2 separate regions of the Homo sapiens genome follow, and region 1 is linked to region 2. Evidence: fine-mapped expression QTL. A gene starts in region 2. The other region holds a variant in brackets. All regions are shown on one strand. Distances are from middle to middle. Region 1 has its middle 17 kb from the start of GIHCG. Region 2 holds the start of ATP23 (ATP23 metallopeptidase and ATP synthase assembly factor homolog).

Evidence for each region. PIP is the estimated chance that this variant, and not a neighbour inherited with it, causes the effect. A credible set is the group of variants that fine-mapping cannot tell apart.
Region 1: its variant is the best candidate, but not a certain one, in a credible set for the expression of ATP23 in activated naive CD4 T cells (Schmiedel 2018, PIP 0.86).

The regions. Positions count from the first base shown.
Region 1 is chr12:57,916,413-57,921,793 of GRCh38, reverse strand. No RefSeq gene overlaps it. Among named protein-coding and RNA genes, the nearest start is that of GIHCG, 17 kb to the left of the region's middle. The variant C/T (reference allele first, on the strand shown) is at 2,433.
Region 2 is chr12:57,939,392-57,944,772 of GRCh38, reverse strand. It overlaps ATP23 (ATP23 metallopeptidase and ATP synthase assembly factor homolog), which reads right to left and starts at 3,206. Exons shown (of 6, transcript NM_033276.4): 1 at 2,885-3,206. The coding sequence starts at 3,071. RefSeq lists enhancers at 1,902-2,071, 2,528-3,337.

The DNA of each region.
Region 1 (5,381 bases), 23 kb after region 2:
TTAGTTTTGTAAGAAACTGCCCAACTGTCTTCCAAAGTGGCTACACCATTTTGCATTCCCACCAGCAATAAATGAGAGTTTTTCTTGCTCCACATCCTCACCCATATTTGGTATTTTCAATGTTTTAGATTTTGGCCATTCTAGTAAGTGTGGCACTTCCTTGCTCTCTCTATCCTGCTGGTGTAGTGTGTAGTGATATCTCATTGTTTTAATTAGCAATTCCCTGATGACATATGATGTTGAGCATCTTTATACCTGCTTATCTGCCATCTGTATGTCTTCTTTGGTGAGGTGTCTGTTCAGGTTCAAGTGTCTGTTCAAAAAAAATTTTTAATCAAATTGTTTTCTTATTATTGAATTTTAAGAGTTCTTTGTTTACTTTGGATAACAGTCCATTTTCAGGTATGTCTTTTGCAAATATTTTCTTCCAGTATGTGGCTTGTCTTCTCATTATCTTGACCTCCTTGGGTTTTTTTAACTTAAATCTAGACCTAAAGATCATACCATAGTAGTAAATATACTTCTCACTTCTCTTTACAACTGCGATTATTTTCTTTGTTTATAGCTGAAGTTTTTCAAAAGGATTGTATATTTGTATAATTTAACAAGAAGCTATTTTGTATTTTGAAATAGATAAAATAATATGCCCATCAGATAATTACCTTCATTATGTTTTATGATGTGGCAAATATTAGTATATTTGAGATGCCAATAATTGCCTGCCTGCCCACATCTTCTAAGAGAATTTGTTTTGTGCACAGATTTTCTTTCCCTAAAGGATAATTTAGCCAGATGTAGCAGCTCAGACCTGTAATCCCAGCACTTTGACAAACGAATCGCTTTGAGCTGCTCAGGAGTTCAAGACTAGCCTGGGCAACATGGCAAAACCCCATCTCTACAAATACTATAAAAACAGCCGGGCATGGTGGTTCATGACTGTAGTCTCAAATACTCAGGAGGCTGAGGCTGAAGAATCGCTTGAGCCCAGGAAGCAGAGGTTACAGTGAGCTGAGATCATGCCACTGCACCCCAGCCTGGGCAACAGAGCGGACCCTGTCTCAAAAAAAAAAAAAAAAGATAATTTACTAGACCAAATAACCACTTATCATCACCATGACTGATCAGGCCAGGGAGTGCAACACTGCATTCAATACCATTCTCCCATTTTCCTTTTCCATCCTAATAGAAAAATTCCTTTGTTATCTTAGCCGAATGTATTATGACAGGCTGAGCACCTTCTCAGCCTAAGAGGATGAACCTTGATTAGTCTAAGTCAACCACGATGACTGTCATTTGCCTTGCTTAATCTGCCAATGAGATGTAAGGGGAAGTTTGTTGGACGCCTTCTGGAGACATTTTTCCCTGCCCTAAAAATGGAACACATAGGAACAGAAAACCAAACACCGTATGTTCTCACTCATAAGTGGGAGTTGAACATTGAGAACACATGGACACAGAGAGGGGAACAACACACACCAGGACCTGTTATGGGGTAAGGGGTGAGGGGAGGGAACTTAGAAAATGGGTCAATAGGTGCAGCAAACCACCATGGCACATGTATGCATACCTATGTAATACACTTGAACGTTCTGCACATGTATCCCATTTTTGTTTGTTTTGAGAAATTTTTTTTTTAATGGGACACAAGAGAAGGACAGTTCATTTTCAGTCTCCCAGTGTTGTCAACCCCTGTAATACCTGAAGCTATAACAGCCAACTTGGAATCATGAAAGAAACCAGCCTCAGTGGAAAAGCCAACCTGCTGAGGATGGCAGAGCAGAAAGATGGGAGACACCTGGGCCCCCAGGTAATGAGGTCACTGAAGACATGCTCTATCTCTAGATTGTTGTTATATATGATAATAAATGCTTAAATAACTTTGGATTGGGCTTTTTGTTACTTTTAGCAAGAGCATCACAACTGATCAAATCAGATACCTAGCTCAAGGGTAACCAATCCCTAGGCCTGCCATTGGACACAGAAATATGCAAGGTATCATTATTCACACTAATGCCAAAGCAGGGAGCTGAGGCCCACATATTTCTGCTTAAATCCAGAGCCACTCTCCAGCTCTAGTCTGTCTGATGCCTAATCCCAGTATGTCTCCTATTTGTCGAATGCCAGGAAAATTGGTCCCCCTTAGTACAATTATCACCCTTTGTTTGAACTAGCTTGAGTGGCTTATAACCAAATGAGTTTGATTAGAGCAATCTGGAAAAGTTAGTACCTTGGGAAATATCCTGCTTTCTTTAAAAAAGAGATGAAGCTTGTCACCTTTAGCCTGAAAGGCATTATAGATGCATTACGCTGCATTTTACTTTTTTAGCTACCCCTATAACAAACTAAAGGAACTAAAGACAGTCCATTTGACGGGCAAATATGGAATCTGGCCTAAAAACTTCACAGAAAATGTTATAGTATATTTTATATAC[C/T]ATGTTTTATATACTTTTCAGGAAGATATTTTAGTACATATGTGAATTATATGTATTTATTTTGTTTTTGCTGAACCTTTTGAGGCTTATTGCAGAGATTATGACCCTTCTCTCCTAAGTACATCAGCATGTATGTACTTAGGAGAATATGAGAAACCAGCCTCAGTGGAAAAGCCAACCTGCTGAGGATGGCAGAGCAGAAAGATGGGAGACACCTGGGCCCACAGGTAATGAGGTCACTGAGGACATGTCTTATCTCTAGATTATTGTTATATATGATAATAAATGCTTAAACAACTTTGGAAGTCATTTAATATACATTCTATCTTCAAATTTCCCCAGTTTTCCCAATATTATCCTTTATACAAATCTTTTTTTACAATCTAAAATCACATATTTCATGTAGTTGTCATGTCTCTTCAGTCTCTTTTAATCTGGAACAGTTTTTGGCCTTGCTTTGTCTTTCATGACAGTGACATTTTTGAAGAATACAGGCCCATTGTTTTGTCCCCATTGTTTCCCTGTGATTCAATTAAAGTTATACATTTTTGGCAGAGACACTACATAAGCAATTTATGTTCATCACATCAGGACACACCTACAGTCAGTTTGTATTATTTGGGAGGATGTTTTTGACCTTGATCACTTGATTAAAGTGGTTTCCACTAGATTTGTCCTCATTTTTTCTCCTTGTATTTAATAAATAATATGTAGGAATATACTTTGGGACTGTGTAAATATCCGCTTCTCCAATAAATTTTCTACCAACTTCCAGCATCCACTGACAATTCTTGCCTGAATAAATTATTACTACTGTAATTGTTGCAGGTGTGACTATCTAGGGCTAGTGGCGCAGGCTGTAAAGGAATTTACCAAGACAATTGTAGGTAAAGAAAGGAAGATTAAGATATGACAATTGCCTTGCAAGGATGCAACAGGCAGCACAGCAGAGAAGGAGTTCTGTGTGCAAAGCTCCTGCAAAGAGGCAAGGGCTGGAAGGAAGTTTTATAGGGCCATGCTGGAGGGAGCTACTTGCGGAACAGGTGTTTGTGCCACAAGGTCGTTGTGCCCTTGGGTTGTTTGATTAGCCATCTCTCAGAACAATTTTTCACTGTTCTTCCCCACCTGGGGCCCCTTTCGTTGCTGTTGCATACTTAACAGTACTCCACAGTAATTGCATAAATGGTGACTTTCTAACTCATCATTACTTCTACATTAGTTGACACCCTGCTCTAAAAAGCCCTCCTTCTCCCTTCCCTATCTGCATTTGCTTGCTTGCTTGCTTGTTTTTTAGTGTCAGTATGAATTCACGGATTCTATTTTATTCAGTGGGATGTAATCCATTAATGTCACCACTTATTTTGATGCTCAAATTATCCCAGGTTTAGCCAGGGAAAGCCCATCAACTGGCTTCTGTGTCATTTTGACATAATTTCATGCTTTTTTAGCACTTCTTTACTTTCTGGCCTAGCAAGTTTTTCAGGCCCATGTTGCATTTTCCCTCCTCTAGCCATGAAAACAGTCCCATCTTCAAGAAGCTCTGGTTCCTTATAGCAGAGAATGATTTTTTGAAAACAAGATTTGGAAACCAAATCTCTTCATTGAAACTTGCTCTTTCAGCAAACATAGCTAGGATGTTGTTTTGTTTTGTTTTGTTTGTTTTAAAAAGAGAGAGAGAAAAAAAAGCATGAGTCCATGCCAATCCAGCACCACCACAAGGTTCTTCCTTACCTTTCCCCATTCTGTATTGGAATCTCCCTCCTCTAAGCAAGAACTCTGGCTTCCAACAATTATTAATGTAATTATTTTCTCAGTACTATAAGATACAAAAAATAATTTCAGAACTGCTACACCTGTGCCACCACCAACAATAAAGCTGTCAAGTAGAGCTCAAAATTTCTCACAGCTCTTTTGTTTTTAAACTCAGGATATATAGTCAAGATACTTTGTCCAAATGTTACTTGAGTAAGTTGGGTTTCTTTTTCCTTCTGTGTGATTCTCCATTTTATGTACAGTTCAGTTTCTTTGTTTCTATTTGTATCCAATTTTAGGACTTCTTCCCCAAAATTGTTGATTATTTTATAAACATGTAAAGCATTAACATGATTCCAAAAGTCAAAATAATACACTGGATTGGAAATGTGTCATTCTCTCTCCGTATTACTTCCATTCTGTTCCCACTCTCCCCCTGCAAGTAACAAATTTCAGTCCTTTCTGTTTTGTCCTTCTAATATGTCTTTTTCTTAAAAGGAAGTAGATATATGTGTATTGTGTCCCCCTATTTCTTATCTATGGTAGTGGCATACTATTATTCTCTTTTGCTCTTTGCTTTTTTCACTTGCAGCAAAGCCTGAAAATCACTCCTTAAAAGCTGCCTAATATGCTATTATGTGTATGTAATATAATATAATTTATTCACTCTGTATTCTCGTGTATACACATTTAGGTTATTTCCATTTTGCAATTACAAATAATACTGCAAATAAAATCTTACACGTGCCATTTTATATTGTTGAAGATGTTTCTTCAGGTTAAATTCTTAGAAGTGAGATCATTGAGGCTGAGCATAGTGGCTCATGCCTGAATTTCCAGCACTTTGGGAGGCTGAGGCAAGCAGATCACTTGAGGTAAGGAGTTCGAGACCAGCCTGGACAACATGATGAAACTCGGTCCTACTAAAAATACAAAAATTAACCAGGCATGGTGGCACACGACTGTAATCCCAGCTACTCAGGAGGCTGAGGCAGGAGAATGGCTTGAACTCAGGAGGCGGAGGTTGCAGTGAGCTGAGATCGCACCACTGCACTCCAGCCTGGGCAACAGAGTAAGACTCCATCTCAAAAAGCAACAACAACAAAAAGAAGTAAGATCACTGGGTCAAAGGGTAAACTTATATGTAGTTTTCATAGATGTTGCCAAACTATGGGGATTATGTCATTTTGCATTTAG
Region 2 (5,381 bases):
TACTTTCAAGTATTGAAGGGGTGCCATGTGGGACTAGATTCAGTTAATATTTCTTCAAAGGGCAGAACAAGGACCAAAGTATGGAAGTTACATGTGGCAGATTTCAGCTCAGTATGAGAAAGGATTTTTCTCCAACAATTAAAGCTGGTGAAACAATAGACAGTAGATTGAAAGAGCCTCAAGGAACAGGTAACTGTATTCCAGGAGAGGTCTGTAGAGTATCTGGCCAGCAATAGCACAGAGGTTTCCCTGTAAGGGGACGGGGAGGCCTAGACGATTCCTGAGGGCCCTTCCACATCTAAGACTCTATGGGCCCGTGACTACTACAGGAAAGTACAAGGAGCCCAAATGCCTCTGATATTAACTTTTCACATAGGCATCTTGTCTGAGAATATAAATGCACAGCCAATTATATGATGTAACCCAAAAAAAGTGAAAAAGAAACTAAGGTTTAAAAAAAATGTTGAAGGCAAAAATAGGTGAGAAAAAGAAATGTGAGATGAGAAAGTCAGGTATAGGTTACTGCTTTACCAACCTGCCCCTTGCAAGAGTGTTCACAGTAGAATAATTATTGTTAACAATACGTATTATTGAGTGAATACCAGGTAGCAGGCACCATATTAAGCACATTATTATTCATGCAACTAGGAGAATTTTACAAAATTAAAACAGTTTCAAAAGTCTGTAGTCCTTGTACTTAAAAAAAAAAAAAACCATGGTTTAGTACTTCAAAAAGGACCTGCAGCAATATTTAGAATAAAATTGCTTTGGTGAAAAAAAAAAAAAAAAAAGAGACTCCCATGAGGTCTGGTTTCCACCACCACGCCCCACCCAGGGATAGCATTTTAAAGCTGCAGGTTGACACTTTAATACCACCAAAAGACCCTCCCAGCCACCCTGCCCTTGGAAGATCAAGGTCCATTGATTCCTACTGGGGCTCATGTTCAGCACCCCACCTTCCTCACATCCTATCTATTTCCACTCTTCCTCCACTGTGTGGCCCTTCCACTGTAAAAACAGCTACCATTTATTCAGCTCAGCTCCTGATATGCTGGTACTTTACATTCATAAAATCAGTACTTTTTTTTTTTTTAGACAGGGTCTCGCTCTGTTGCCCAGGCTGGAGTGCAGTGATGCAATAACAGCTCACTGCAGCCTCAGCCTCCTGGGTTCAAGCAAATCTCCTGCCTCAGCCTCCTAAATAGTTGGGACTGCAGGCATGAGCCACCACATCCAGCTAATTTTTTTTATTTTTTGTAGAGACAGGGTCTCCCTATATTACCCAGGCTGGTCTTAAACATCTGAGCTCAAGCAATCCCCCTGCCTTGGCTCCCCAAAGTGCTGAGATTACAGGCATGAGCCACCGTACCCAGCCCCATAAAATCTATTCTTCACAACAACCCTAAAAAAGGTATTTTCCCCTTCTCTTTTTTTACAATAAGGATAGTGAGGATCAGAGAAGTTAAGTCACCTTCCACACCTGAGGAAAGGGATCCGCATTTGAACCCACATCTAACTCTGCAACCCATACTCTTTCCACTCTATTCCACTTTGAAGCACCTTCAAGGCAGGGTGCTAACTCATCTTTCTACTTCCCCCACCAGAACCTGGGAGGCACTCAATACATATTTGTACAGTAAATACAATATCATCATTCTCTCCCCTTTTACCCTCAACTCCCCTTCCTCCTCCTACCTCCCTGAGTCTCTACAAGCAGGTAATCCCAAGAAGGTTGGAAAATCTTTCGGTGGTTGACTTTTGAACTGTGACTGACTAGCTATGAAATAGTAACCTTGCTTTGGGACAAGTATGTTTAAGACTAATTTTCTGAATGTATCTGAAAGTAAACTTAAGAAGTCTATGTCAATGTAAAGGAATTAAGAAATCTTCTCTAGTGCAATGTCTCTGGGACGGGAGAGAAATTTGTCAATGGGCAGTTGTGTCCCTGTTTAACCCACAGCAGTTCTTAACCTTTGTGGGGTCGTTGGCCTCTTTGAGAATATGATGAAGCTATTAACTCTCTCCCCCGACCAAAAAAAAATACACTTTGGGCCGGGCGCAGTGACTCACGCCTGTAATCCCAGCACTTTGGGAGGCCGAGGCAGGCAGATCACGAGGTCAGGAGATCAAGACCATCCTGGCTAACACGGTGAAAACCCGTCTCTACTAAAAATACAAAAAATTAGCAGGGTGTGGTGGCGAGCGCCTGTAGTCCCAGCTACTCGGGAGGCTGAGGCAGGAGAACGGCGTGAACCCAGTAGGCGGAGCTTGCAGTGAGCAAAGATCGCGCCACTGCACCCCAGCCTGGGCGACAGAGCGAGACTCCGTCTCAAAAAAAAAAAAAAAATGCACTTAGGGGCACACACACACACATACACACGATTTCACAGACCATTTCAGGGATTTCTACGCTCTGAAGCCCATTCATGCATGAACCACTTCCAAGGAACGGTAGGTTTGCAAAACTGCTTTTATATTTTTACAGCCTTGGTATGCCTTAATTACATTTTTACATTTTTACAGCCTTTGTGTGCCTTAATTAACCTGGCTGGCACTTTAAAACTTGGCCTCACCCTTACCCTGAAGTCACAGTGTGGCTGCATAACTTATGTAAGAAATCGGAGGATCTGTCACAACAGTGAGTGACAAAAAAGGGCAGACAAATTCATTCCACAAGCCAAAAACAGCGACGAAAAGGGTCTCAGCGCCACCTCTAGTGGGGAAACTGAGCCTCAGGCTCCCAACCCAGCCCCCATGATGCCCAGTCTGTCTAGACTCTGTGCTGAACCTGAAGCCCCTGGCCAGGTGTTGCCCAGGCCCTTCCTCGCCCACCCGGTCTCAGACCCATTCTGTGGAACCACAGCCTCCAGGTCATGGCTCCTACTTGTCTCCAGCGTCTTCAGGAGCCTAAGCTGGCACTTCTGGTTGCTGGTGAAGAAGCTGGAGAAGAACCCTTGCTGGGGATTCCCCTGGGCCAGACGCTCGGGGAAGACCTGGCAAGAGACGTGTTGCTGCTGCAGCTGCTCCCCTGCCGCGGGGCCCCGCCGGCGCTCGTCCGGAGCTCCCGCCATGCCTCCCGCAGACCTCGCCGCTGCTTCCTCCTGGCTCAGGCGGCCAGAGCGAGACTGGGAAAGGTAACCTCCCTCCCGCCAACGCGACCGCCCAGGCCCTCCCTCCGCAGGGAAGAAGGGCAGCCTGGCTGGGCTGAAGACGTTAGGCGGGAGGGGGCTTTGAACCTGACGGGGAGCGCGGGAGGCGGGGCGAGAGGCGAGGGGCGGGGCGAGAGGCGAGGGGCGGGGCGAGGGATGAGGGGCGGGGCGAGGGCATGGGGCGGGGCGCGGGGCCCGATGCTGTTGGGCGGAGCTGGGTCTTGCGACTTCCCTCAAAGGCTGTAACAACCCGGCTGCCGCGGATTTCGCTGCTGCCCTCCCAGTGTGGGTGACATGTCTTTATAAGCGTTGTTCTGCAGCTTCCTGCTGCCTGCTGAGCTCTAAGGGTGTCCCGCCTCCTCGCAGACACTCCTTCCTCACCTCGGGGCGAATATTGGCCACTAACTGCTCTTGTGCCGCCGAAGGTCTCGGCCATCCTCCCACTCCCTGCCTTCTTCCGGGGCAAGCCAGTTGTCATTTCTGGCCCGCCACTTTCCCGACCCCTGCCATCCCTCAGATCCACTCTGCCCAAAGATGCCTCTGGCCATATTGAAAGCAGTGTTTTTCAGAAACGTTTTAAAACTATAAAGAATGACTAGTCACATCAAAATCCTCAAAATGTAGGAACCAACTACATTTTTTCTTCCCACCTGTACCCATTCGTTTACCCTACTCTTCTGCCCCACCCCCCACCAATAACTCCCTGATAACAAAGCGCACCCTGTTTACTTCTACCTCTCAGCCTTAACTCATACTGTCATTTCCATCTTTAAGCTCCTTGCCTCAGCCCCTATGATTGGGGCCCAGGTCAAATCTGCCTACTCCACAGGGCATTCCCAGATACCTTAATCAAAATTAATGTCTCCTGATCTCCCAATGTACAAAGCACTTTGTACCTGTTAATCATTTTCATCGTAGCCTGCCAGGTTTTATCCAATTTGTGTGTTTCTCTTTTCCTACTAAATTATTCCACTCAGCTCACACATTTATTCAGCACCTACTATGATGGGCCAGGCAAGGTGTAAGAGACTGAGGAAACACATGACTAAGAAAATTGCTAAAGATGAAGAGCAGCATGTGGTTTATGTAAGAAACATATCTGAAAAATATAGGCTCAGCAGGCCTTTAGGGTTATGAACAGTGCTTTATGTGTCATAGATGCTCAATATCTAAATTGAGTGGGATGCTAGGATAGTCATTCATCTGGAATATTATAAAAATACAAACAACTCCTATGTACATAGACTATTAAAGCCAGAAGTCAAAAAAAAAGTAACTACTTTTTAATTAAATTCACCTTGGATACATTATTTCCAATCCTCACTACAACCCTGCAAAGTAAGTATTATCTCTAATTTGCAGATAAAGTGGGCTCAGCAAAATTCAATAATTTATCTAGGACCACACAACTAGCTTTCAATCCAGTTATTGAACTAAAACACACATATGGAAAACTAAGCCATTACAATTCAGTGTGATTAGTTTGGAATACTGAAGGCAGGCTAGATATGCCTAGAAATGGACCATAGCCTATATACATTTGAAATACTATTTGGATTTTTTTCATGCTTTCTTTTTTAATACATAGATTCAGGTGGTTTATGTGTAGGTTTATTATACAGATATATTGTGTAGTGGTGAGGTCTGGGCTTCTAGTGTACCCATCACCCAAACAGTGAACATTGTACCCAATAGTTAATTTTTCAACCCTCACCCTTCCCCTCCCACTCTCCCCACTTTTGGAGTCCCCAGTGTCTATTATTCCCCTCTGTATGTCCACGTGCACTCAGTCTTTAGCTTCCACTTATAAGTGAGAACATGGGGTGTTTGATTTTCTGCTTCTGAGTTATTTCACTTAGGATAATGGCCCCCAGCTCCATCCATGTTGCTGCAAAAGACATGATTTCATTATTTTTATGGCTGCATAGTATTCCGTGGTGTATGCATAACCACATTTTCTTTAACCATCTGTTGGTGGACACTTAGGTTAATGGTTGATTCTATGTCTTTGTCTTTTTGTCATAACAATTTCTTCTTTTTTTTTTCTTTTTCAGAGACAGGTTCTTGCTCTGTCACCCAGGCTGGAGTGCAGTGGCGTAATCATAGCTCACCACAGCCTTGAATTCTTGGGCTTAAGCAATCCTACCACCTCAGTCTCTCGAGTAGCTAGAACTACTGGCATGCACCATCATGTCTGGTTAACTTTTTAATTTTTTGTAGAGATGGAGGTTT